Homo sapiens: one gene and its partners. The protein of the gene in region 3 interacts with the protein of the main gene of each other region in a biochemical or structural test. Each region holds a gene or a part of one and is shown on either strand. Other genes may lie near its edges.

Region 1 (7,056 bases), on a different chromosome or scaffold from region 3:
AAAATACAAAAAATTAGCCAGGCGAAGTGGTGGGCACCTGTAGTCCCAGCTACTCAGGAGGCTGAGGCAGGAGAATGGCGTGAACCCGGGAGGTGGAGCTTGCAGTGAGCCGAGACTGCATCACTGCACCCCAGCCTGGGCAACAGAGCGAGACTCCCTCTCAAAAAAAAAAAAAAAAAAAAAAAGAAACAAATTAACAAAGCCCAAAACAACAAAGAAACTAATGTGTACAAAAATGTTTCAAAAGCTATTTTGATGATTAGTTAAGTGCTATCCAACATTTACTGCCATTAAAAATCATCAACAAAACAAGCCTCAATAAGTCCACCCCACATACTGCAGTCTAGACTCCCAAAGAACCAGCCTTAGGCTGGGAGGTGGCTCACACCTGTAATCCCAGCACTTTGGGAGGCTGAGGCGGCGGATCACAAGGTCAGGAGTTCAAGACCAGCCTGGCCAAAGAGACCAGCCTGGTCAACATGGTGAAACCCCATCTCTACTAAAAATACAAAAATTAGCCGGGCGTGGTGGCGGGCGCCTGTCATCCCAGCTACTTGGGAGGCTGAGGCAGAAGAATTGCTTGAACCTGGGAGGGGGAGGTTGCAGTGAGCCGAGATCACCCCATTGCACTCCAGCCTGGGCAACAGCAGAGTGAGACTCCATCTCAAAAAAAAAAAAAAAAAAAAAGAAGAAGAACCAGCATTAGAAAGGGCTCCGGGGTGGGTTTATCCACCCTACCAAATTACAACAAAGGCACCTGAGGCTCAGGAGATTAAGCAATTTGCCCACGGTCACCCAGCCAGAAGCAAGGCTTCCGCAGCCCCCTGTGAGCTCCAGCAGGACAGTCAGGAGGAGAGCTGTCTTCTGAAGGAATCCTCAGGATGATGGGGTGTCCTGTTAGTGCAGCAGCTGCCTCTGTGGCAGAGGGGTCCCTGGAAACATGAAGGCTCATTTTCACCCAAGTCACACAGCCAAGAGAATAATATCAGAATCAATAAAAATATAGATGCATGGGGAATAGTCAGATGGGCTTTAGTCCTAACTTTGCCCCAACTCAGTATATGACTATGTGCAAATGTTAACTCTTTCAGGTCTCAAAGAAAAGCTCTGTGTCTTAGTCTCCTCCTCTGTAGGATGAGAACAGTTAACAGTACCTTTCTCCTATTGTAAGGATTAAATGCAACCACAAGTGTAAAATATACAGAAGCGAGCCTGGTACAGCACGTGGTAAGTGCCTAATGAACATCAGCTACTACTATTATTTGTATTTATTATTGAAAGGAGGGGTTGAGAGTAGCCAATTCCATGACTCATGAACAATCATCCATCTATTTATTCAGAACCATCACTTGAAGGAGGATGGGCGCATGTGATAACCAGCAAATAAATACAACCACTGTTTCCAACCAGGGGTTTTGTTTGTTTGCTCGTTTGGGGTCAGCTAAGTGGCTATTTAACACGGTCACATTCCACTGGATGTCAGCTGTCCTCTCTTCTCATTCCATGTCCTTCCTTCTCTCAGTTACTGTCAGTGTCACACTCCTGCTCCGTTTTTAACAATACAGTGTGTGGCTGGGAATCGCATCTGTCAGGTCCACATCAGTGGCACAAATTTTAAAAGCTATAGAGCAAATGCCTGAAATCCGCCCCTCTGAACCCAGCCCTGGGCAAACCACACAGCATCCTGTGCTCAGTGCTCCATTTCTACGCTTTAAAAGCACTGCAGAATCGCCTGATCACAAAACTTAATATGCAGTAAAGTCACTGTGTGGTTTGGGCAAGCCAGTGAAAAGCAAAGAGAAAGCTGCTGCTAAGGGACTGTGGGGACAGAAGTCTAAGCTGTTACAGGAGTCGTGGTGTTCCGGGAAGCAGCAGTCCAGACTGCAGGGTGGGACTTGGGTTCAGAGAATTGTCACCTGTCTTTCAAACTACAGCCTGGGAGAAGAAAGTGGGAGAAAGGAATTGTGACCAGCAGACAGCAGATTTCTAATAAATTCAGATGAACCTCCCCCCCTGTACCTTAGCTCACAGAGGAGGGGGAAGTAGCAAGAAAATACTGCCCATGCCTCTTGACAAAGAAGGAAGGGGGTGCCAGAGGCACACCAACAGCCTGCACCCCAGCCCTAGACAGCACACGCTGCACAGTCATCCTGGGAAAAGAGAGTAATGCTGCAGGAAGCCAGTCCTAAATCACATTCAAAGGCCAACTGAAAAAAAAAAAAATAACAAGTAGGGACAGGGATTCCTGGGATGGTGCTCATTATGGGTGTCAGGCTGAGTAGAGCTGGCACAGGCCTTGGTTTGTAAACACAGGGCAGAACGAGCATTACCTAAGAGCGCTTTGCTCCTGCACATCCCAAAGAACCAGGCAGTCACTACAAGTGGAAGCTCAAAGAACATGCACTCAAGTGGAAGCTCAAAGAACGTGCACTCAAGTGGAAGCTCAAAGAACGTGCACTGACCAATGGATGCGGCATCAGAACCGAGTGGCGGCTCAGCCTTCACGGTGTCCTGGCGTTCTCCCAGTGGTGTTCTGGGAATTTGATCCTAACCTCATCATTAGTGTTCAGAGGACTACAGGAAAACACAGAACCCCCAACTAACTGCACACCACTGATCAGATATTGGTCCTACTAATGTACCAAGAAACATCCTAATTGGCAATTTGAAACCACAATAAGCTACGTCTAAAGATAATTTGAGACTTGGAACCAGAAACTAAAATTCATTCTATGATAATATTAACTAAATTCACTCATTCTTTTAGTAAGTATTTACTGAGCACCTATTGCGTTCAAGGCACCGTAATGGCACCGCAGTGGTAGACACACTCCCTCACGGAGCTAATCATCTGTTTAACATTTCACTTGTTGATTTTTTAACTTGCAGAAAGGAAACTGGGGCTTTGATTTTGAATGAGTGAAACATCATTCTACTCAAGCATTGATCTGGGGCATTTCCATGGAATTTACTATATGTTAGAGGAAGAGAAGGCACAAAGAGCCCAGAGGAAGTTGATTTTGGTAGAGGCAGCTGTGAGAGCATCGAGGAAGTGGGTTTTCACATTGTGTTTGGGGTGGAGGGTCCAAGGAGGAGCCTCGGCCACAGCTAAGCAGGAAGGACTGCATTCAAAGAGGCTTCCCCATTAGTGGTTACCTAATGGCCTTCTTATGTATAAAAAAGGGCCTGCAGTCACGCATGCGGGGCTTCAAACCTAGATGACGGGTTGATAGGTGCAGCAAACCGCCACGGCACATGTATACCTATGTAACAAACCTGAACGTTCAGCACATGTATTCCAGAACTTAAAATTTAAAAAAGCCGGGGCGGGGGCGGGGGGGGGGGTGGTGCGGGGTTGGCGGGGGCAGTGGCTACAGCTTAAAAACACAAACAGAGGAGCGCTCCTTTTGAGTCCCACTCCTTCCTGGCACTGATGGGGAAAATAAGCCCCAGGAAAGGGTAAGAATCACCCAAGGACACAACTAAGATGTTCTCAAACAGATGACCAGAAACTAAGATGACTGGCCTGCTGGATGACAGATCCCTTAATAATTCACAAACGGTGGGTTTTATTTATTTACTCATAAAACAGCCTTTGGGGCAAGACGGGTGACGAGTCAGAGGAACACCTGTCCCGGCGGCGAGGCGGCCGCGGGGTGGGGCAGGCGGTGGGTTGTCAGGCCTCTCCTCTTTCCAGAGCGTGATCTTATCCTGGCCATGGGGAACACGCTCAGCTGGCCTGAGGTAAGACCCAGCCTGGCACTCAAGGCAATCTCCAATCCGGGCTACTTTGGGAGACATTTTTCTGCAAGCTCACACATGACTCATCTCTACAGACCTCCTATAAGGTCTCTTGGCTACAAGGAATCCCATTCAAACCGCCTCTGCCAACAGCTGCTCTGGAGACCAGGAAACATTTGGGGTTGCTGTGGTTGATTTTTCTAAAAACACACTTAGCTGGCATTAGTGCTATTTCTTATCTCTCTACAGCACTGTTAATGTGACTAGTATTACGAGTATCAGACGCAGTCTAAAGACTGTAGTGAGCCTCCCTTAATTTCATTGGTAGATCTTTTTTTTCAAAGATCAGAAAAGAGATTGAGAAGCCTGAAGAATTAAGATGGAAAGCTGTGTCCCCAGCAACCAGGGAGGCTCTAACCAGTGCTCTATAAAGGCAAGAAAGGGGGCCGGTTCCCCATTCCACTTCTCCAGGGCATGACCTTGGGCAAACAACCAAATTTCCCTGGGCCTTAGCTGCCCTGAGGGGCAAAAGAGGGATACTCCGCCCTGCCCTCACCCCCTGGGCTGTTGTGAGGATGAAATGAAATGAGGTAGTCTATAAATGCATTCTGAAAACCACAGGAAATTGCAGAGATGTTCAAGATCGTTCTGATTCTACCCCTGGACTGTGGCCTCCAGGGACAGGTTCCTGCTGGCTCCCTGCCACGAGGCATCACTTGGTGTTTGCCAACAAGGAGGCACTCAGTAAGTGTTAAAACGGGTGAGTGAAAGGAGGCAGAGCAGGTGCCATCAAAATGTCTCATTGCTTGACTGAGTATACTTTGACGACAAAAATTCCTAACTATGGAGGAAAAAGGAAGTACAAATTTGACGAGTTTAAAATTGATCGAAATACAATGACTGCCAATCTAAGAGGACCTCTTTCTCAGGCCACAAAAATGAGTAGCCCTACATCATAGGGCCTGTACTCTTAGTATCTGTTCTGAGAAAATATATCATGACAAAAATGTGACCATGAAATGCAGTCATTATAAATTTCTTTTCGATTTACAATAAAAGCATCTTCACACATTTGAAACCGTAGCACACTGAGCGTGAGACACCTATTTATTCCATCTTCAGGCAGCGTGCTGGGCAAGCCTGTGGCCACTTTAGCAGGCCCAGTGAACTGCTCCAAGGTGACAGGAGCTACAGCGCTGGCAGGAGGGTCTGGTAAATGATGAAACTCCCAGCCAGCCTGTGGTTCGCTGGGAGCACAGAGAGGAAGGAAAGGGACTTTAAAAACATACATACAAAACTGCTTAACTTATGGCCAGCCCAGTTAGAAGGTATGGCCCAGGAGGCCGGGATCTTTGCTGTGTCCCAAGAACAAGAACAACTCCAGGCCCTCAGGAGGTTGCTCCGTGAGGCAGGCGATGAGTGAAGCCACTGAAGGAGGGAAGAAAGGAATGAGTGACTGAAACTGACACATGCAGTCCAAGGACCTTCTTCCCTTCAGCTGAGGAGGCCTTGGTCTGCTCCCACCCCAGGAGACTGGTCCCCTACCCCACTGCCTGTGCCCAGCTAAGTGGACCCATCCTCCGCCTCTCACCTTAAGTCCCATTTTGTCACAGGAGCACAGGAGTTTCCTGACCATCCCTCCCCACTGCAAGTCTGATCTCTTGCCACCTTCCTGCTCACCCTGTGACACACAGAGGATGCCTGTATTCAGGGCAGGCAGCACGACATCTGCTGAGTTCACCACTGAGTCCCCAGAGCCTTGTACGGAGCCTGATGGAGCCGGTGCTCAATCCCTGATGAATGAGGGATGGAGTAATGAGTCAATGAAGGGATGGGGCAAAGGTTTCAAAGTCCAGACAAAAACAAACAAACATGAATCATTTCTCCGAGGAGGGGATGCAAACGCAAATGTCAAAAGTCCAAGTGGGCCGTCGGAGGTGTGGCTGGCTGTGGGAGTGGTGAGGGGCTCTGTGGGAGTGTCCGCCACCTGACTCCTGCCCATAGCTGCCTTGTAGGCAGGAACAAGCGCTCAGAGTTACCAGAGATTCTCATTTTTCAAGGAAATCAGGAACCAGGCTTTTGAGATTTTTGAGTGACTTCCTGATTTTTCAATATTGACCATCAATTCTTTTGTTTTTTTCCTCAAGAACACGTGCGGATCCAACCCAACATATCTGTGGACTGAATCCAGCCCGCAGCTGCCAGTCTGTGCTTAAGCTCCAAAAACATGACGGTATCAACTCTCCTCGCTCAATGTCTTTATTGGAAGATATATGAGCAAAAAGAACCACAGTAACTGCTTGCACAACCAGAACCATGTTCATTTGTTCTCCAAAGCAGCCTCTAAACAGCTGCATACATCTCCCATCAGTCTTCCAGAACAAATCCCTCTGAGCTCCTAGGGAAGAGCCTCTTCTCCTCTGCAGGCCTGCCCACAAGCTCACCCTGGGAGCTCCCTAATCTGTCCAGCTCTCTTCTACTCCCTACCTCCTCGTCATCTCTAGAAGCACTGTAGAGTTTAGAAAGCCTCCCCTGCATCCCAGCTTGTTCCTGGCCCTCCAAATTCAACCTTTCTCCACCAGGCCTCACTTGACAGGCCCCCACCAGCCCAGCAAGTTGTCCCTGTGCCACCCTCTGGCCCAGACTGTCTTGATTCCCCATGGCACTTGGGACCCCCAAATGTGAGGCCTATGACCTTGTGTATTCTCTGAGGATATACATAGGTATGGATGAACCCCTCAAGGCCCTGCCCCAGCCAGGCACTGCTGCATGAGAAAGAAAATGTCCCAAAGAACAGCAATGACTCAAAAGATCTCCCCCAGGGGTTAAGGAGAGTCCTGCACACCAAGGAGGTATCAGGCAATGCAAGGGGGCGGGATGAGGAACAGGCCAGAGCTGCACACTATGCGGGATGTGAAGGGGTTTCCTGTTTACCCAAAAAACCCTGGATGCCTTAAGCACTGAGAACTAAAAACGCTGGTTCTTCTACTTTCAGGGAGAGGAGATTATGAACATATTTAAGCAACGTTTCTGTTGCTTTGAGATAACAAAACAGCAAAACTCCAATCACAACAATTGTTTGCCTGGTGTCAGGCTCTGCCACCACTTCACCTAAGGGCCTCTCCTCTGAATCAAATACTCCTCTGGAGACTGAATAGTGGGAAGTCCATTAAAAAAACTCCAACAGAAATCTAACAAAATGTCGTCTAAATGCAAAGGGAAGTTCACTGAGAATAGCCAGCAGAGACCACCAGGAAAGGTCATCCTCACTCCAGGCGCGCCCCAGTCTTCCTTGGCAGTTGTAATCTTTCACTA
Region 2 (5,865 bases), on a different chromosome or scaffold from region 3:
AAAATAGATAATTTCCAAGGCACCCTTGGAGCTACCAGTCATGCAACAGAGGTCTAACTAATGGGATGTAAGTACAAACATGCAAGTGGAGCTTCTGGAAACTACTGTTTTGTTCTCTTTGCGTAGAAAGAGACACATATTTGCACCTTTTCCTTACCTAAGCCTATCCTTTTCACCCCTACTTTTGCCATCCTTGACAGCATCGTGGAGGAGTTACAGTATCAGCCCCGGACAGTTTTGTCTGTAGACTTTTCTACTGTAAGAAGAAAAAGAAACAGACAACAATAACAAAAAGACAAGCCCCAATTGAGTTTAAGCCACTGTTAACTTGGTATGCCATCAAACACAATTTTTTAAACCTAAACAATAGCTATGGTGTTTCACAGATTTGACATAACCAACAACAAATGGACCACTCCAATTTTTCTGGATAGTTAAAAAATAAGGCCTTCACACCAACACAGGTCCCAGACTGGCACTCTCGAATGACTAAGTTTGTAATTATTTCATCAGTTCCATACATTTATAATTAAGTACAGAGAAGATTAATGTAGATTCTTTATTGATTCCACCAATGTATTAGTAGATATGATAATAATAAATGGTATTTTTACATTCTCTTAACCAAAAATATAACAAATATTTACACTCAGTAAAAATACAAAAAGCATACAGAGGCACTGTCTTTCTAAAAGACATAAGTTTAAGAGGTATCAAAAAATAGGAGACAAACATTGCTTGTTACAGGATACCTTACAATCAATGAATTGTGCAGTAGAATTGCTATCTGATTATTACAGATGTGCAGTTTTGTTTCTGTCTTTTGCTGATTAGCTTACATGTCTCAATTTTAAAAGATCAAGTTCAACTGCATTCTGTGTATCAAAAATAAAGAAGCATTAAAAATGCACAACAAAAGTCAAAGATGAACCAGGATTCAAGTTTAAATTTGAACATGTACTGTGACACTTTTGACACTTTTCTGAAGATTTATCCCGTTTTTCTAGCCTTTAAGGTAATGCTGAAGGAATACATATACTTTAATATCACCTTTTTTAGAAACTTAAAATTGAATCAAAATAATCAGTTTTAAGGAAGCTTTTTCTCCTCCTTCCTTTTTTGTAGAGGAAAGAACACTTGATAAAAATTAGATTTGTTCTTAAAAACACCCATGATTACCATCACATTTTCAGCCTGGGAGAGATTCTCAAGGAGGTGATATAGATCGCAATGATGTGATTTATCACCCTCAAGAAAATTCACTAAAGGCTTTTTCTCCCCAAAGATCATATTGAAAGTAATCATTTGGAGTAAATTAGAATTATTAACTTTAATAAGCTTTTATGGAATCATGTACTGGATTTACTAATTCTCAAAATCTTTCACTATAAAGATATTTTGTTGAAACTTACTATTTGGCAAAAGTTTGCACTGAGCGTTAACTGCTTCAACAGTCTTGGCAGATTGAGAGTTGTGGCAGGAAGAGAGGGCACTAGTCTCTTCATTAAGATTATAAATTTATAAAACAAAAACAAATGGAGATCTGGAATTGGAGTAAATGCAGCTTAAGACTTCTCTTGTTCTAGTCATATGACAAACTAAGAGAAGGCAGGAATGTACCCTTAGTTAAAATATAAAAATCAAAACCTCATGATTTTTTAAGGGATACATACATAACAAACTACAAAGCATTTGGCTTTGGCTCCTGATCAATGTGATCAGCTGATCTGAACACTCACAGTTAAAGCTAGATAGATAAAACAAAGGCAGCTGTAAGGTGCAAGTCCAAAACCATAGGCCTCAACACTCTGTGCAAGATATTTACACTATTAAGGACAAAGACAGGTAAGGCTTCCATTTGGTTTGAAAGACCTGCTAAATAAAGACATTATGAAAACAGCACATTTTTCTGGGGAAATGAATATAAAATGGTGAGAGTAGACATCTGAATTTGATAAAAAAAGTGGGTATAGCAAAAATATATTTCACATTGTTTTGCTGTGGCCATGAAAACAAAATTATGCAAATCAGTGAAGGAAAAAATGTATAATCATAGGACCACTGTTTATAGGCCAAATCACTGAAGTGTAACTTTCAAACTAGGATTTTTGGTTCAGGTTATTTCCCATTTCAAAGGACCAAGAAAGCTATGGAACCACCAAGCCTCATTCTATCATACCTGCGATTAATTTCTAAGGCTTAAGTTTCAGATTAATGTTTCTTTACCACAGGAATTTTTGAAATGCTATTATTCCTAAAATAAAGAGACAATCATGTTGATGGGAAAGATGAACTACTACCATTTACCACTTACAACTGATTCATGATTTTAAAATGAAGGGGGATATGCAGGAAGACAGACAGCAGAGACAGCTAGGGAAAGACAACACATTTCTATAAAGGAGGCCACAAACCAACTAAATCCTATGTGGACACATACGGACAGCCATTCAGAAGTAAACCCCTTTTGGCTCCAAGTTGATCTGGGTAGTGCACGTTAATGGCTTTGGCTTTTTTTTTTTTTTTTTTTTTGGTAATTACAGAAGTTTATTAAAATTTCACTTGCTTTTACATTAAAAAAACTGAAAAAATTAAACTTAATATATATAAAATATATTTAATTTGCAAAAATGTGAAAAATCTGCCTCATCCAGTAAACAGTCACTGAAATTTTAATTAAGAGTGCCATACCCATGAGGCTGGAAAAGTATGTCCTCTCAAGGGCTAAAAACTGAGAACCAAGAGACAATCATTTCTGTAACTCCAGCTCCTCTTTCTCCCACAAAATGTTACTGCAGCCAGCTGAGAGCTGCAGGGTATGTCAGGTCAGACACAACCTGGTGCTATGAGATGTGGGGGAGGCATGCTGCAGAACACTGCATAAAGTCAAATTCGTCTTCATTATTACAACACCCATGATAAGAATTTCTTTAAAAAAAGTATTCCATACTTGAGTTATGAGAGATTTTAGTTTTGGGTTTCTATAGACCAGAACTCTCTAGAACCCAGTCTCTATTTGTTGGATCTATACTTTCAGTTACAATTCGATGCAGCATAACTTTCACTTAAGGAAGAATTTGTATACATGTCATTTAACATCAAAATTTCATTCTGTGGAAATTAGGGTTCCCACCCTCCTCCCCAAACTACTCCCTCCCATTTCCCAAAGGACTGACAAGAAACCCTGTGGCAGCTTCATTTGGCCTTCCACACCATGACCAGCAGGTTCCTAACACCTCAACTGCAAAGGGCTTCCTATTTCTCTCAAACTGAGACCTACATTGCATTGGTGCTACAGATCAAGTCACATCTCTGTGTAGATCAAGCATATCACCTCTGTAAAGATGACTTCTGTTTGGTCAGACCAGAGACAATTTTATGACCTCAAACATGAATATCAGCTAACAAGAGCTCTCAAATACAAACAAAACCACAACAATTCAAATAATAAGTTATTTTTCAAATATACAAGAATATCCTTGGTATTGGCAGACAATTTCAATTTGTCCTTCAGCCCAAGCTATGGCTTGGAAATAATAATGCCATTATCTTTAAAATAGCTTGTTAAAGAAAAATCTATAGCAATATACACAAGGATCACTCTGAGTTTACATTTTTTCTGTAACTGTGGTCCCAAGGCAGTTCCGGCGTGCAAAGTGGAGACTGGTATCCAGGCATAGCATCCATTGCTCAGGAAACTATTTATCTGCAGAAATTAAATGAAAGGAAGCATAACTCAGGTCTATTTCATTGCTCGGAGTAGAGGGAATAAAACCTCTGGACTGGTTGTAGCAATGAGCTGTTCGTTAGCAATGGCCTGCAGAATCATGAGGTGGTTCTTGCCCATTCCTCCACGACTTTCAGTGGTTTTCAAATAGGTCATCCAAAGGCTAGACTGCTGAAACTTGTTCATTTTCTGAAAATAAAAAATATATAATTAACTGGCAGATCAGCATATTAATGAGATCCTAATAATCTAGTTATCTATTTAGAAAATCAATGTCAACAAAGAAATCCTCTCAAACATTGCATCGAGGCCCAGATTTTATTATAATAATACCTATGATTTCTGATCACATTGAAGGTTGACAATAAACTGGAATTTCATGGTTTTTAATCATTTTATTACTCTTGTTTAAAAGCATAAATTTTCATTTATTTTCAATAAAACAATCATTTCTCAAACTATTGGCACAGGTACAAAGTCAGTCAAGACTTTTGCTAATAAAAGGAACTATATCAATAGAATCATTTCAGATAATTTGGCATTTGAAACACAGTTTCAAGTTTCCATGCATTAAGGTAAAATACAATTCCATTAATGTTAAAAGTATCCCATTAGATTGAGCCACTGTTTCATCAAAGATAAGAATATTCCATTTGAGCCACAGGGTACTAGGCACACAGAAATAGGCAGCTTGCCCATTTCATTTAAAAAATACACCATCAGTGCGGGGTACAGTGGCTCACACCCATAACCCCAACTTTGTGGGAGACTGAGGCTGGCAGATTGCTTGAGTCCAGGAGTTCAAGACCAGCCTGGGCAACATGGTAAAATGCTGTCTCAAATACAAAAAATTAGCTGGGTGTGGTGGTGTGTGCCTGTAGTCCCACCTACTTGGGAGGCTGAGGAGGGAGAATTACCTGAGACCAGGAAGTTGAGGCTGCAGTGAGCCACGATCATGCCACTGCACTCCAGCCTGAGTGACACAGCAAGACCTTGTCTCAACAAACAAACAACCCACACCATTGGCTGGGTGTGGTGGCTCACACCTATAATCCCAACACTTTCGGAGGCTGGGGTGGGAGGACTGCTTCAGGCCAGGAGTTCAAAACCAGCCTGGTCAATATAGTGAGACCCTGTCTCTACAAAGGAAAAATTTAACAATGAGCCAGGCATGCTGGTGTGCACCTGTAGTCCCAGCTACTTGGGAGGCTGAGTTGGGAGGACTGCTTGAGCCCAGGAGTCTGAGGCTGTAGTGAGTCATTATTGTGCCACTGCACTCTAAGCTTGGGCAACAGAGTTAGACCCTATCTTGAAAAATAAAACAAAACCAAAACACTCCCCCATACTATATTTAGGAACTTTTTTTTTTTTTTTGGAGACAGAGTTTTGTTCTTGTTGTCCAGGCTGGAGTGCAATGGTGCGATCTTGGCTCACTGCAATCTCTGCCTCCCAGGTTCAAGCAATTCTCCTGCCTCAGCCTCCCGAGTAGCTGGGATTACAGGCATGCGCCATAATGCCTGGCTGATTTTGTATTTTTTTAGTAGAGACGGGGTTTCTCCATGTTGGACAGGCTGGTCAGGAACTCCCGACCTCAGGTGATTCGCCCGCCTCAGCCTCCCAAAGTGCTGGGATTACAGGTGTGAGCCACTGCACCCTGCCGGCAGGAACTTCTTACTTTTTAACAGAGATTCAAGGCATTTAAAGAAACAATTACTAATTACCATAAAATACCAAAGTAAAGACCATTTAATGTGTTCAGCAATTCATTTAAGAGCCTTTAAGAGAGCTTGTCAACATACCATCTGCTTCGCTATCTGCATCAGTCACATCTCCTAGTTTAGGATGGAATGGCTGCAAATTATGCCTCTGAGGCTGAGTTACAATCTTCGATGGAACACAGGCCACGAGGTTGCTACTGAGAGAAGCTGGTGGCAGTCTAGAGAGGCTGTTATGCATCATCTTTGACCTCTGCACTGCCACACTATAATCTGGAGGTTTTAGGTGTGTGTGGGGTCCTTCCTTTAGGTCCGCTAAAGAAATCCCCAAATATCCTGGAGGAGTGGGAGGTGGCTCCCTATACCTATCGTCCTTCTTGGGTGAGGTGACACAGTACACTGGCATGAAAAATAAGCAATGAA
Region 3 (3,403 bases):
CCTCCTTGCCAGTCTTCAACACACCAGGCACATGTCCACCTCATGGCATTGGCACAGACCCTTTCCCCAAGGAATGGAAAATCCTCCTTTCCCCCAGGCAGTTGCATGGGCTGCTCACTTTGAACACTTACTCGAGTATCAACTTCAATGAGATATTAACCCACTACCACCACCTCTGCCCAGTACTCTTGCCCCTTTACACGGCTTAATTCTTCTTCAAAGCACTCATCATTACACAAGTTATCTTTTACCATTTTCTAAAGATAAAAACTCCACGAGGAAAGGGATCTGAGTCTGTACTGTTCACTGTTGTTTCCGCGGCATGCAGATCAGCACTTGCCATACAGTAGAAGTGCAATGAATATTTGTTGGTAGGCCCCTAAGGATCATGTCCTGTTCTGATTTGCATGTCCTACAACATTCAGCACAAAAATTTGAACATGGTAAGCTTTAAAAAAATTCATTGAAAACAACAGCTCAAAATAAGAGTCACACCACTGTTTAAAATGGGAAGGTTTATTAAGGTTTTTCCTCAAGAGGAACAGCCAATCTCTTGCTTCTTGAGAGAAGCAATTAGTGGGAAATGTATGTCACACCTTGGGCCCAGAACCACAGGAGGCCGCTTCTCAGCATGCCCAACGAACATACATCATCCCCAATTCCCATTTAAAGCTCATTAATGTCTACAAAACAGAATCCACGTTGCCTTCCCAGAAAACAGAACTAGGAACCCAGTCAAAGCCTCCAGCTGTTCTCAACAAGAATATTTAAGCAAGACAGGGCAATAAATGGACTGCACATTCAACAAACCCATGATGAAACTGCAGTAAAATCCAGGATCAAAGAAATGTCTGGACTACATTTTCAAGAATAACTTACAGTTTTTACATTTTGGGGAACATAAATACTAAAAGCTGGGTAGTTAGACCGCCTCAAAGCTCACATTTATTTCCCTCTCGGCAAGATGAGCTCTTTCCAGACCCTGGACAAGAATCCAAACCACTCTGCCCTTTTAAGCCTGGAGCTGATTCAAGAGGGGATATTTTAACACATATTTAGCACCTTAAATAAGTACAAAATCCAAATTCTTAAAAAGGTTATTTTACAAATTATTTTCCTCCTCCAAATACCTGACAATTTCTTCACACTTTGGTTTCAACACACATACAATTTATAAGAGTATATTTTATGTTTTCTAGCATTCTGCTGTGATTGCTTGCAAAGGAAAATACCAAGGTATTCCTTATTTCTCTTTCTGTCCCTCAGTGCCTAAGACAAAACTGAGGCACATAAACTGACAAATACATGTGTATCTACAAGGGTAATGGGGCAAAATATTTTAAACTGGCCATGTCCAGGAAATGTAGAATGTCTTATTACTATTCTTCTATGGAGAAAAATGTTCCAAGCCTGTTTTAATAAAGTTGGTAATAAAGATCATTATTTTCTATAAGTATTAACTTTTCCAAGTACATTATAACCTCAAAGAAGAAGAATATTTCAGTGAGGAGTAAATGGTGGCCATTTATGATGGCAAATCAAGGTGCCAAACACAGATTAGTTCAGAGTTGTAGGGAGAAGAGAGTAACACACCAACATCCATATTTTGCCAAAAGTTCTTAAGATAATTACCCATGCAGCTGCAGTTCAGAAAACTAGGGTGTTATTCATATCTTTGATGAACTGTAGTATCTTCCCTGCCCAATTAGATTGTAAACTCTTGAGAGAATGTCTCTATGCCTTTTTGTGAACCACACAGTGTTTATGTACTAGGACTTAAATAGTTACTTCAATGCTTATGAAAGTATTAACCGGGCCAGGCGCGGTGGCTCACGCCTGTAATCCCAGCACTTTGGGAGGCTGAGGGGGGGGCGGATCACGAAGTCAGGAGTTCAAGACCAGCCTCGCCAACATGATGAAACCCCGTCTCTACTAAAAATACAAAAATTAGCTGGGCGTGGTGGCGGGTGCCTGTAATCCCAGCTACTTGGAAGACTGAGGCACAACTGTTTGAACCCGGGAGGCAGAGGTTGCAGTGAGCGGAGACTGAGCCATTGCACTCTAGCCTGGGCGACAGGGCGAGACTCCATCTCAAAAAAAAAAAAAGTATTAACCGATGTTGAAGCTCCCCCTGGTGGAGGGTAAGATTACAGCTGGATTGTGTATTTACTGTTAATTTCTAAAAGTAGACTGTTCAGGGATACCACCAAGCCATTAGAGCAAACTATGAACTATGGCATGAAGCCTCCTTAAATTCTGTGTCACTCATATAACCAAACCAAAGTCATTATACTTTAAATAGCCACACATACTAATATGAAATCAGTTTCTAGATATTTATCATTTGACATTCACACAATATCCTAGAAACTCTTGATTTTTCAGCTATAAAAATACATTTATTTTCAGGTACCCTTCCCTTTGGAACCAAGACTAAGGAGTTCACATTAGGACAATATAAAAACACACCTATCTCACTTTCTAACAGGATACTTTTCATCCTGCTCAGCAACCACAGATTTCCTTGCACATCTGACTTCAGCTGGTCCTGCTCTGCATATCACTGTGTGCCAGAAAGGCGTTTTTCTTGACAGTTCCACCTTTAACCCAAGTGGACTGTATAAGATGTGACAAAGGAATCTAATAACTATCATCTTTCTCCACCACATTCTAAAATAGAATAGACTGAGTTTATGCTACTAGTCAAGCAGACTGAGACTTGGAGTCTTATTAAATGACTTCTATTTAATCTGTTAAATAACTACACAATAGATGTGACAAGGTAGTATTTAGAAAGTTTTACTGGTTGATGAGATGTCTGTCTATGATCTTAAGTTTAAAGGTATGTTTGAGGGGTGTTTTAAAGCAGAATGACTTTAGAGGACCTTAAAATAAAAGATGCCACCCTGACCTGACAACTGGCCCTAATACTTCATTCAAGTTCGCTATAGTTTTGGCCCCTCAATCCCAGACATATGCATAATTGGATAAGTAGAAGGGAAGTGTAAGGTAACTAAGTTTATTCGAAACTAAAACAAAAACACAAACAAAAAAAATTTCCATTTTTTTAAAAACAATACTTTAACATTTTCTCAGGTTGGTCAAAGCTTAACATTTGAAACCTGATTTTAAAATTTCAGTTTAGTAAGTGACAGGCTGACCACATGCCTGGAAAATCTCAGCAAGGCATGAACACTTCTTCATACCTAGTTGCAAAGAGACAGTATCTAGAGATCCCTGAGCAATGACTTAGACTTTCTAGGACTGGTCTGTCTCCTCCTTAATATTTGAGGACAAGGCACAGGGTTTTCTAAGCTTGTTTCTTTCCTTTTCCAGAACTTAATTGGCTAACAAGCTTTTTGTTCTACCTCTCTTTATAGAGACTACATAAGTAGTATCACCC

The links.
Region 1: the proteins of RAP1A (region 3) and RAPGEF1 form a complex in vitro, tested with the Homo sapiens proteins (one study listed by BioGRID).
Region 2: of the proteins of RAP1A (region 3) and RAPGEF6, one has a biochemical effect on the other in vitro, tested with the Homo sapiens proteins (one study listed by BioGRID).

The regions. Positions count from the first base shown.
Region 1 is NC_000009.12:131,730,032-131,737,087, forward strand, and holds part of RAPGEF1 (rap guanine nucleotide exchange factor 1), read right to left. Parts: intron 1-7,056. UniProt on the Homo sapiens protein: Guanine nucleotide-releasing protein that binds to SH3 domain of CRK and GRB2/ASH. Transduces signals from CRK to activate RAS. Involved in cell branching and adhesion mediated by BCAR1-CRK-RAPGEF1 signaling and activation of RAP1.
Region 2 is NC_000005.10:131,423,376-131,429,240, forward strand, and holds the end of RAPGEF6 (rap guanine nucleotide exchange factor 6), read right to left. Parts: intron 5,842-5,865; coding exon 5,527-5,841; intron 3,917-5,526; coding exon 3,891-3,916; 3' UTR 546-3,890; downstream 1-545. UniProt on the Homo sapiens protein: Guanine nucleotide exchange factor (GEF) for Rap1A, Rap2A and M-Ras GTPases. Does not interact with cAMP.
Region 3 is NC_000001.11:111,713,789-111,717,191, reverse strand, and holds the end of RAP1A (ras-related protein Rap-1A precursor), read right to left. Parts: 3' UTR 501-3,403; downstream 1-500. UniProt on the Homo sapiens protein: Counteracts the mitogenic function of Ras, at least partly because it can interact with Ras GAPs and RAF in a competitive manner. Together with ITGB1BP1, regulates KRIT1 localization to microtubules and membranes.